Linked DNA regions of Homo sapiens: all the other regions are linked to region 3. The links come from fine-mapping of genetic effects on gene expression. A gene starts in region 3. Each other region holds a variant in brackets. All regions are shown on one strand. Distances are from middle to middle. Region 1 overlaps LOC105369844 (a long non-coding RNA gene). Region 2 has its middle 170 kb from the start of PHLDA1-AS1. Region 3 holds the start of KRR1 (KRR1 small subunit processome component).

Region 1 (2,769 bases), 120 kb after region 3:
TGTGTGTAGTAGGTCTCTGTAGGTCTCTGTAAAAAAAAAAAATCTACTGCTGACTGTAGTCAATACGTTTGAAAGTCACTGCCTTGGTAACATTATTTTACCCACTTACTGTCATATGACATTTAAATGCCAATGGTTTTGAAAAGTGTATCTATAGGCTAGATTTTTATCTTGAACTCAGACCCATATTTTCAACTATCTACCAGATATTAGCACTTGGATGTTCCACACGTCCCACAAATTGAGTAATAGAATGATTAAAATAATGGGCTTTGTAGCCAGATTTGAGTTTGAATTGTGGGATTTCTCAGCCTGTTTTCTCATTCTTAAAGTCGGAATAATTAAAACCTCAAAATAGTGCTGTAAGAATTTATGTCCTTAGAACAGTGCCTGGCTCACACAAAAATAAATAAATATCGCTTGAGCACCAACCACGTTCCAGGTATTGTTCTAGGCACTAGAGATTGATGAGAAAATTCAGCCCCCCCACCATATGAGACAATGCTGCTTTTCAGCGGTTTGAGAAAAAAGTTGAAATCAACAAAACATCCCCTTCATGTTTTACTGCATACATACAGTAATCCTTTTAAAACGTATTCCATCAGCAACCTTTTCAAACAGCACTTTGAAGTTTACTGAGTTATGACCACAGAATGACCTTCTTCCTGCTGAGTGTGAGTAAGCCTTCTCTCCCTGCCCCAGCTAACCACCAGGCAATTCTCAGAGAGGTCTCAGTTTTACTTGGGTACAAAATAGAACCTCTAATGTTATTGGGTGAAGGAACTTGTGTGCAGCGTTCCCAGGTTCTAGTGAATAAGATGATGTCCTTTGCCCTTGTGAAGTTTGCTGACAGTGACCACATAAACAGATACATACATGACAGTATAATTTCAGCTGATATCGTACTGTTGTAAGTATTGTTACAATGATGATGATGATTGTGATGATAAAGTAAAACCATAAACACATTATTTCCCCACTCTTTCTCCTTACACCTACCTCCTTCTCATCCTGTATTTCTAGCTGGATGAATCACATCACCTTTCACACTGTTGCCCAAGCCAAAGGCATCTATCTAGTCTATAGGCTCTACTCTATATTTCTGAAATCCATCTACTTTTCACTCTTACTATCATTGTGCTATGCCAGATTCCTACCATCACTTGCCCAAGGTTCTGTGGCAAACTCCTGATTGG[CCTTT/C]CTGCTTCCAGATCCATCCCCTCTTAATACATCATTCACATTGAAATCAGACTCCATCTAGAATGGATCTAGCCATGTCTGTTCATTTCCTAACCCTTTAAGGTCTCCCCATTGTCATCTGTAGAAAGTCTAAGCTCCTGGTGGATTTACCAGACCCTTCGTGATCTTAGCCTTGTTCAACTCTCAAGCATCATCGTTCTCAAATTCTGTCTTCTTGTTAATTAGAATGACTTACATAAATTTTTAAAGTTCTCTTTTACTTCCAGGCTTTTATCTAGACTACTCTTCCTCCTGGAAATCTTTTTGCTCTCCCTGCTTTTCTTACTTCCAACATTCCCTGCACCCCCCGCCACACCCACACACTTCCACCCTTCAATTAAGTGCACTTTGAAATTGTTTGTTTTCTTGACTCTCTCCTCTTAAGGGGAGATGTCTTTATTGGCGTATTCCAATTAACTAAAGTAAAATGCCTACGTCCCTGTATTTGTTTCCTATTACTGCTGTAACAAATTGTCACAAACATAATGGCTTAGAACAATATAAATTTATCATCTAATGTTCTGCAAACCAGAAGTCTGGCAGGTCTCATCAGGTTAAAATCAAGATATTGGCTAAAATCAAGGCATCAGCTAAAATCAAGGCACCAGCAGGACTGCATTGTTGTATTCCTTTCTGTAGGGTCTAGGTAGGATCTATTTCCTTGCCTTTTCCAACTTCTAGAGATCATGCATATTCCTTGGCTTGAAGCTGCCTTCTTTCTATTTTCAAAACTAGAATAGGCGAGGGAAGTCCTTCCCACTTGGAATCACTCTGATCTCCTCATTTGCCTCTCTCTTCCATTTTTAAGGTCCCTTATAATTACATATCACCTGGATAGTCCAGAACAATCTCCTTAATTTAAGATCATCTGATTAGCAACCTTAATTCTATTTGCTGCCTTAATTCCCCTTTGTCATATAAGGTAATATATTTATAGGCTTCTGGGATTAGGACATGGATGTCTTTGGGAGGCCATTACTCAGACTACCAGGGCCCCCATTAATGGCTCATAAATTGATATGCAAATAAGGTGTCCAGTGGATCATTACAGGGGCTGCTGTGGTGAATGGCTGTTATTCTTGCCTGCCTATCACTTATTTTCTTTCTTATGGCAATGACATCTTCATATTCCCAGAGGAGCTCCTTCTCCCCCAACTTCACACAATCTTAGTGGGTGTATTAGTTAAGGTAAGGCTTAATATCTAGTGCCAAAATTTCAGTTGCCTCAAAAAAAATTTTTTTAATGATTTCTTGCTCACATAAAGGTCCAATGAGTATTTCTAGTATGGCTATCCTCCTTTGAGTAGTTCAGAGGACTCAAAGACCCTGGTTCCTTCCATCTTGAAACTTCTCCATCGCAAAACACAATTGCCAATGTCATCTGGGAATCGTCTTCGATTTATTCATCTGGAGACAGAAAGGAGCTTGAACATGTAGGGAAGATTTCTATAGGGCACATCAGGAACTGGCATATATCATTTCTGCTCATATTCTAATGACTGGATGTCAGTCCCATGACTATACCTAATG
Region 2 (2,769 bases), 350 kb after region 3:
GCCTGTTTTTTCCCTGTGATCACACTGCCAGGCAATATAGCTTACTGTATTTTGCAACTAAGAGAGTGTTTTTGTTTCCATGTGTGTGTGTGTGGTTTTTTTTGTTTGTTTGTTTTTTGTTTTTTTGGTTAAGTCTCATTTATGCCCAATACTAAAAAATGATAAAGGATAAATGAAATCCATAGAAAATAAAAAATACTTATCTACAGGTAACCTTAAAATATCTTTATTTATTAGTTTGCCTTAAAAATACCTTAAGAATAAGACCCAGCACTTTAGGAGGCCAAGGTGGGTGGATCGCATGAGCTCAGGAGTTTGAGACCAGCCTGGGCAACATGGCAAAACTCCATCTCTACAAAAAATACAAAAATTAACCAGGTGTGGTGGTACATGCCTGTAGTCCCAGCTACTTGGGAGGCTGAGGTGGGAGGATCGCTTGAGCCCAGGAGGCAGAGGTTGCAGAGTGAGACCCTGTTTAAAAAAAAAAAAAAAGAATAAGAGGGAAAAAGAGAAAGATAGTGCCCATATCCTAACTATGCCTTAAACACAAAAAGATGTTGTTTTTTAATCTCTTTGAAATGGCTTACCTTTGATATTGATTTTCAAGTTCAGGGCCACGAGTAAAGGAATAGTGTTAACTAGACTCAAAACAACCTGCAATTCACCTGATCAACAAGACCAGGAACCAAGTGGCCCAGGTCATGGGAGTAGTGGTTTTGTGGGACCCTGGTTAGTGGTCCTTAAAGGCCGATTTTTGTGACCTCAGGGGTTTGTGATAAACCATCCCAGTTTGCCTGGGGCTGACACAGTTTTAGCAGTGAAAATCCAGTGTCCCAGACAAACTGGGCTGGCTAGTCACCCCATGCATAGGCACCGCCTTTTTTTTTTTTTTTTTGGCCCGCCTTTCAAATCACCTTAACAAAATGTTGGTTTGATCTTTGGGATTCCAAAGGATGTTTAGGAAAGTGAAGAAAATCATAAATGCAAATTAAATCAATTTGTTCACCAAAAAGAGGTTTCTTTAAAGAGGACACCTAAATGCTTCTGCTTATAGACACATAAGAAATAAGAAGAATGCAGAAGCACTGTCTCATTGCTTCCAGGGAGAAGAATTTGGTGCTGGCTGACCAGGCAAGGATGGTAGTCTCTCACGGCATGCCCTTTTAGAGCCATTTGAATTAAATGGATGC[A/G]TATTCATGATTACACTAATTCAGTGTTGTGGAACTGTGTTCCTCAGCAGGCCTTGAGGGACCATAGGGTGGGGAATTAGGGAAGTAATAGAGATAATTGCAGACACCCTTCACCTGCTTCAAGCAGCTTTGTATTAGCTGTTTTACATTTTGGCTTCTTCACAAGATTTCACTTAAATAAAAGGTTTTATGATATTTTTAAAAGTCTAAAAACCATAGCACTAGTCCTTTTACTTACAATCTGTAAACAGCAACCCTTTCTAAACAATCCTTTACGGAAGAGAGACACCAAGGTCTACTGAAAAACTGGGGACATGGCATCAAAGGAGTCAGGTTCCAATCCTGGGTCCACGCTTGCTGTCTGTGTGACCGTGAGTAAGTTTCTTTATACCCTGGGAGCCTTAGTACCTTCATCTGTTTTCAAAAAGTATATGTATCTGTGTGTAATATTAGCCCATTGTGAGAATTAAATGCTATACTACTCATGAACCAACAAGCACTGTACCTGTGTACATAGCAAATACTCATAAATGTCTAATCTGAAACTGAATCAGTGTTAAAAAGGCATTAATGCAGAAGTAGGTTATTAAAATACTATTAAAAGGATGTGAAGAAAATAATAATACCACCTGCATATGTTTATGTCAGGTTCTGTTCAAAGTATTTTATACTAATTAATTCAATTAATAAAACAGAGTGAAAGTTAGAGATGAGTGGAAGATTAAAGGAATGGAAAATTGGCCCTATGAGGATACTGGACCAGAGATGGGGATAATGGTTTACATTAGGACAAATGTAATCTCAGCTGATCTGTAGGAGATCTCAGCTAAAAATAAAGAAGAAATTATTTGGCTATCAAGCCAATCAAATGCTGGTAAAGAGTTTGTTAGGTACTGTGACTCCACAAGGCCATTTACCTAGGGAGGGAGCTGAAATATGAGGAAGCCAGGAAAGGGACAAAGAGGCCGATAGGCTAAATCCAAGTTGGCAGAGTGTGGCCTAGATGAGTGCCCTGCCCTAGAAGGAGAGCCATAACCAAATGCCAAGCCAAAGGACCACAATGAGAAGGCTGCCCAGTCAAAAAACTGAGTCATGAGTCATGGGTTGGGGTGTAACACCCTGAAACAGCATACCAAAGGCAAGAAGGCAGTGTCTGAAAAAGCCAGCTGGGCCATGTGTGGATCTCAGCAGATTATCAACAGCTCTGCCCTACATCTCTTGCAGCCATGCAGTTCACCGTAAAGCAGTCCTATTTATGAATTGTTAGCTCATACCAAGACTCTTCCAGGAAAATTTACTGGGCTAAATAGGTGCATGATTGGCCAGTCGTGGTGGCTCACACCTGTAATCCTAGCACTTTGGGAGGCAGAGGCACGCAAATCACCTGAGGAGTTTGAGACCAGACTGGCCAACATGGAGAAACCCCATCTCTACTAAAAATGCAAAAAAAATTAGCCGGGCATGGAGGCACATGTCTGTAATCCCAGCTACTAGGGAGTGTGAGGCAGGAGACTCCCTTGAACCCGGGAGGCAGAGGTTGCTGAGAGCCAAGATCATACCATGAACTCCAGCCTGGGTG
Region 3 (2,769 bases):
GTATCACCCTGTTTGAAAAACAAAAAGCTAAATCTAAGAAGACACAGAAAAATGCATACGGTCCACTTTCATGTATATAAAATTAAAAAACAGGCTAAATTAAGCCACTTCATGACTACAAGAAGAGGAACAGAATGCAACACAATTCAGGGTGGTTACGTCTGATACAGGAAAAGAGAATATGATCTGAGAGGTGCACGTAAGGGTTTGAGGGGTATGGTAATGCTCTATTTTACTTAGTCTGAATGCTAGTTTCCCGCATGGTTTTATTAAACTCTATATAAGTTGTATCCCCTGCTATGTACGTTACATAATCATTTAATGAGCAACAACAAAGAAACTTTGAATACTTTCCCAATGCATCTAAATTGAGAGTTCAATGTTTTTAACACTTCCTATAAGCCTGGTTGAACAGATCCCCAGGCTATTTATGACTTCTCTATCATTCACACTGAAGAAAACGGGTAAAACCAGACTACAACGCAGGAGTTAACAATTAAAAGGTAACACAACCTAAACAGTAAGGGCTGTGTCGTCTAATATTTTAGCATCTGACAAACAGGAATTGATAATCTTTCAAAATGTCTTTACTGACAAACTAGAGCTAAGGACATGTCGGATAGCTCCTTTCCCCATACCTCACCCCATTATCAGGGTCCACTCTTGTATATCATGACTACCTATTCCCACCTCACCCTATTCCTCATTCCGTCAGTGACTTTCAGCCACCCGCAGGCTTACAAGGTTCTGCGTCGCCCTAGGCATTTTCTTAATACTCATCCTTTTACAAAAGACGTAATCCGCAACAGCTTCGCTTTGGGGACCCTTTAGCAAAAGCAATGAATTAGGAACACCTGGGTGGCACCATATCGGCCAGCCGTTCCTGTGGGCCCAGCCAAAATCTTATCAGCGATTATTCAGGTACTCAACTACACAGTACAGGCTCCAGGTGGTTTTATAAGTCCACGAGGAACGAAAGAAAAAAACATCGCAACTCAACGTACACAAACCCCAGGCTTCGGTTCCCACATAACATCACCTTGGTTCTCCGGCTTCGGCTTCTGGTTACGAAATTCACTTTTTCCAGCGCCTTTTTCTGGCCGCTCCAGCGAGGGAGACGCCATTTGCAAGCTGCTTCCGGTGGCTCCGGAAATGAAACTGTTCTTAAACCCTACCGGCTAAAACGCCTACACTCAAAATGAGTTCCGCGGAACTCAGACGAGGAGATCTGCGCAGTCTCCGTGCGTACGTGCGTTAAGCCCGCGCTTTTACACAAACCACAGCTTCTCCTACGTGGCCAATGAAGAGCCGGAGACTTTCTCCCAGTATGCCCTGAAACCATGGAGTTTGCGTACTGGGACTTGTAGTTTAGCAGGCGGTATAGGCAAATTGGATACTGTTTTATCCGTAGTTTCCTCGTGGCCTCACGGCCTAACCTGGACCATCGGACAGCGGAGTGCTACCAACCTGTCATTGATGTCATTCATTCTTTCGATAAATATTTATATGTTGGCCAAATATGCGCTAGATGTTGGGAGGAAGTACAAATATGAGAATACAATGTATATTGGGCCTCCACTGCAACAAGTGACAGGAATAGCTACTATTTATTGTGAGACTACTTTGTTTCAGTACTTTATTTACATTATTTCTAATTTTAAAAACAGTGACAAAATTAAACTTTTCAAAGTTGTTTCTGATGGTAATCTTCCCGAGTGTTGGTATTTCTCTAAGTCAGAGGGATGGTAATTCAACATCCTGACGTTTCTGAAGTATTTCAACTAGCCTAAGATTTCTCAAAATCTCTAAACTCCTTTTCTACCCCCAACATTACATAGGGCTAAGATGTGTAGAGAGGTTCATCACTAACTACAAATAACTACACTTTTGGAAGTATAAGAGTTCTTCGACATGCCAAATATAAGATTTTTTTAAATTTTGATTTTATTGCTTGCATTTCTAAAATTTTCTGCAGCAAATAGGGAAAGTCTTTGATAGGTTAAATTCCTTGCATTAGTGAAATACACGTTTGTCTGATAAATCCACTCTCGTGTATCTTATACAATAATTTAGGTTTTCATATATGAGATCCAGGTATGAAACAGATTGTTACATATGGACAGAAGAACCCACGACAGAGGGGTTTTTTGTTTTTATCCTGTGAGTTTTATAAATGACAGGGATTTTATCTCTGTTCTTTTAATTTCCTCAAAAAATGATAAATTCCTAAAATAGAACAGATAGCAGCAGGTGAAAGTTATAAAGTGAGGAGTACACCTCATGAAGCAGGTTTTTATCATTCTTATTTTAAGTAACTCAATCACTAATAAGTGGAAGGCCCGTCTTCAAGTTCAGGCAGTTTGACCTAGCAGCTTCAGGGGGCTACTATTCATTAGGAGCTTCAAATGTGTTAGAGGGCTGATAGGGATTAAGGGGAGGGAATAGTCTAGAAATAATATTTGTGTTAAAGCCCTTTATTTTATAGCAAAATTTTCTACATAGGCTTTTCTTCCCATTTACGTGTATATTTTTAATCTTAGTATTGCTATTATTTGAGGAATATTGAGAATATGATGGAGATGGGAAAACGAAAACCCACCCATCCTTTTCTTGGCACTATTGAGTCTGTTTGTAAAACCCAACCTTTTAATTACCATACTATGCAGAGCCCACAGTTCACCTGTCCCTTTTTGAAATTTTTACATCTTTTTCCAAATCATTACTGAAAGGGGTGTAAAAACATGGATAATAATTGAGTTCTAAGATTCT

The links. PIP is the estimated chance that this variant, and not a neighbour inherited with it, causes the effect. A credible set is the group of variants that fine-mapping cannot tell apart.
Region 1: its variant is the best candidate, but not a certain one, in a credible set for the expression of KRR1 in vagina (GTEx, PIP 0.50).
Region 2: its variant is the best candidate, but not a certain one, in a credible set for the expression of KRR1 in iPS cells (PhLiPS, PIP 0.68).

The regions. Positions count from the first base shown.
Region 1 is chr12:75,635,216-75,637,984 of GRCh38, forward strand. All of the region lies in intron 8 of LOC105369844 (a long non-coding RNA gene), which reads right to left. Among named protein-coding and RNA genes, the nearest start is that of KRR1, 120 kb to the left of the region's middle. RefSeq lists a silencer at 534-828. The variant CCTTT/C (reference allele first, on the strand shown) is at 1,197.
Region 2 is chr12:75,857,792-75,860,560 of GRCh38, forward strand. No RefSeq gene overlaps it. Among named protein-coding and RNA genes, the nearest start is that of PHLDA1-AS1, 170 kb to the right of the region's middle. The variant A/G (reference allele first, on the strand shown) is at 1,191.
Region 3 is chr12:75,510,474-75,513,242 of GRCh38, forward strand. KRR1 (KRR1 small subunit processome component) reads right to left here and starts at 1,136. Exons shown (of 10, transcript NM_007043.7): 1 at 1,040-1,136. The coding sequence starts at 1,124. RefSeq lists enhancers at 349-893, 894-1,437, 944-1,103.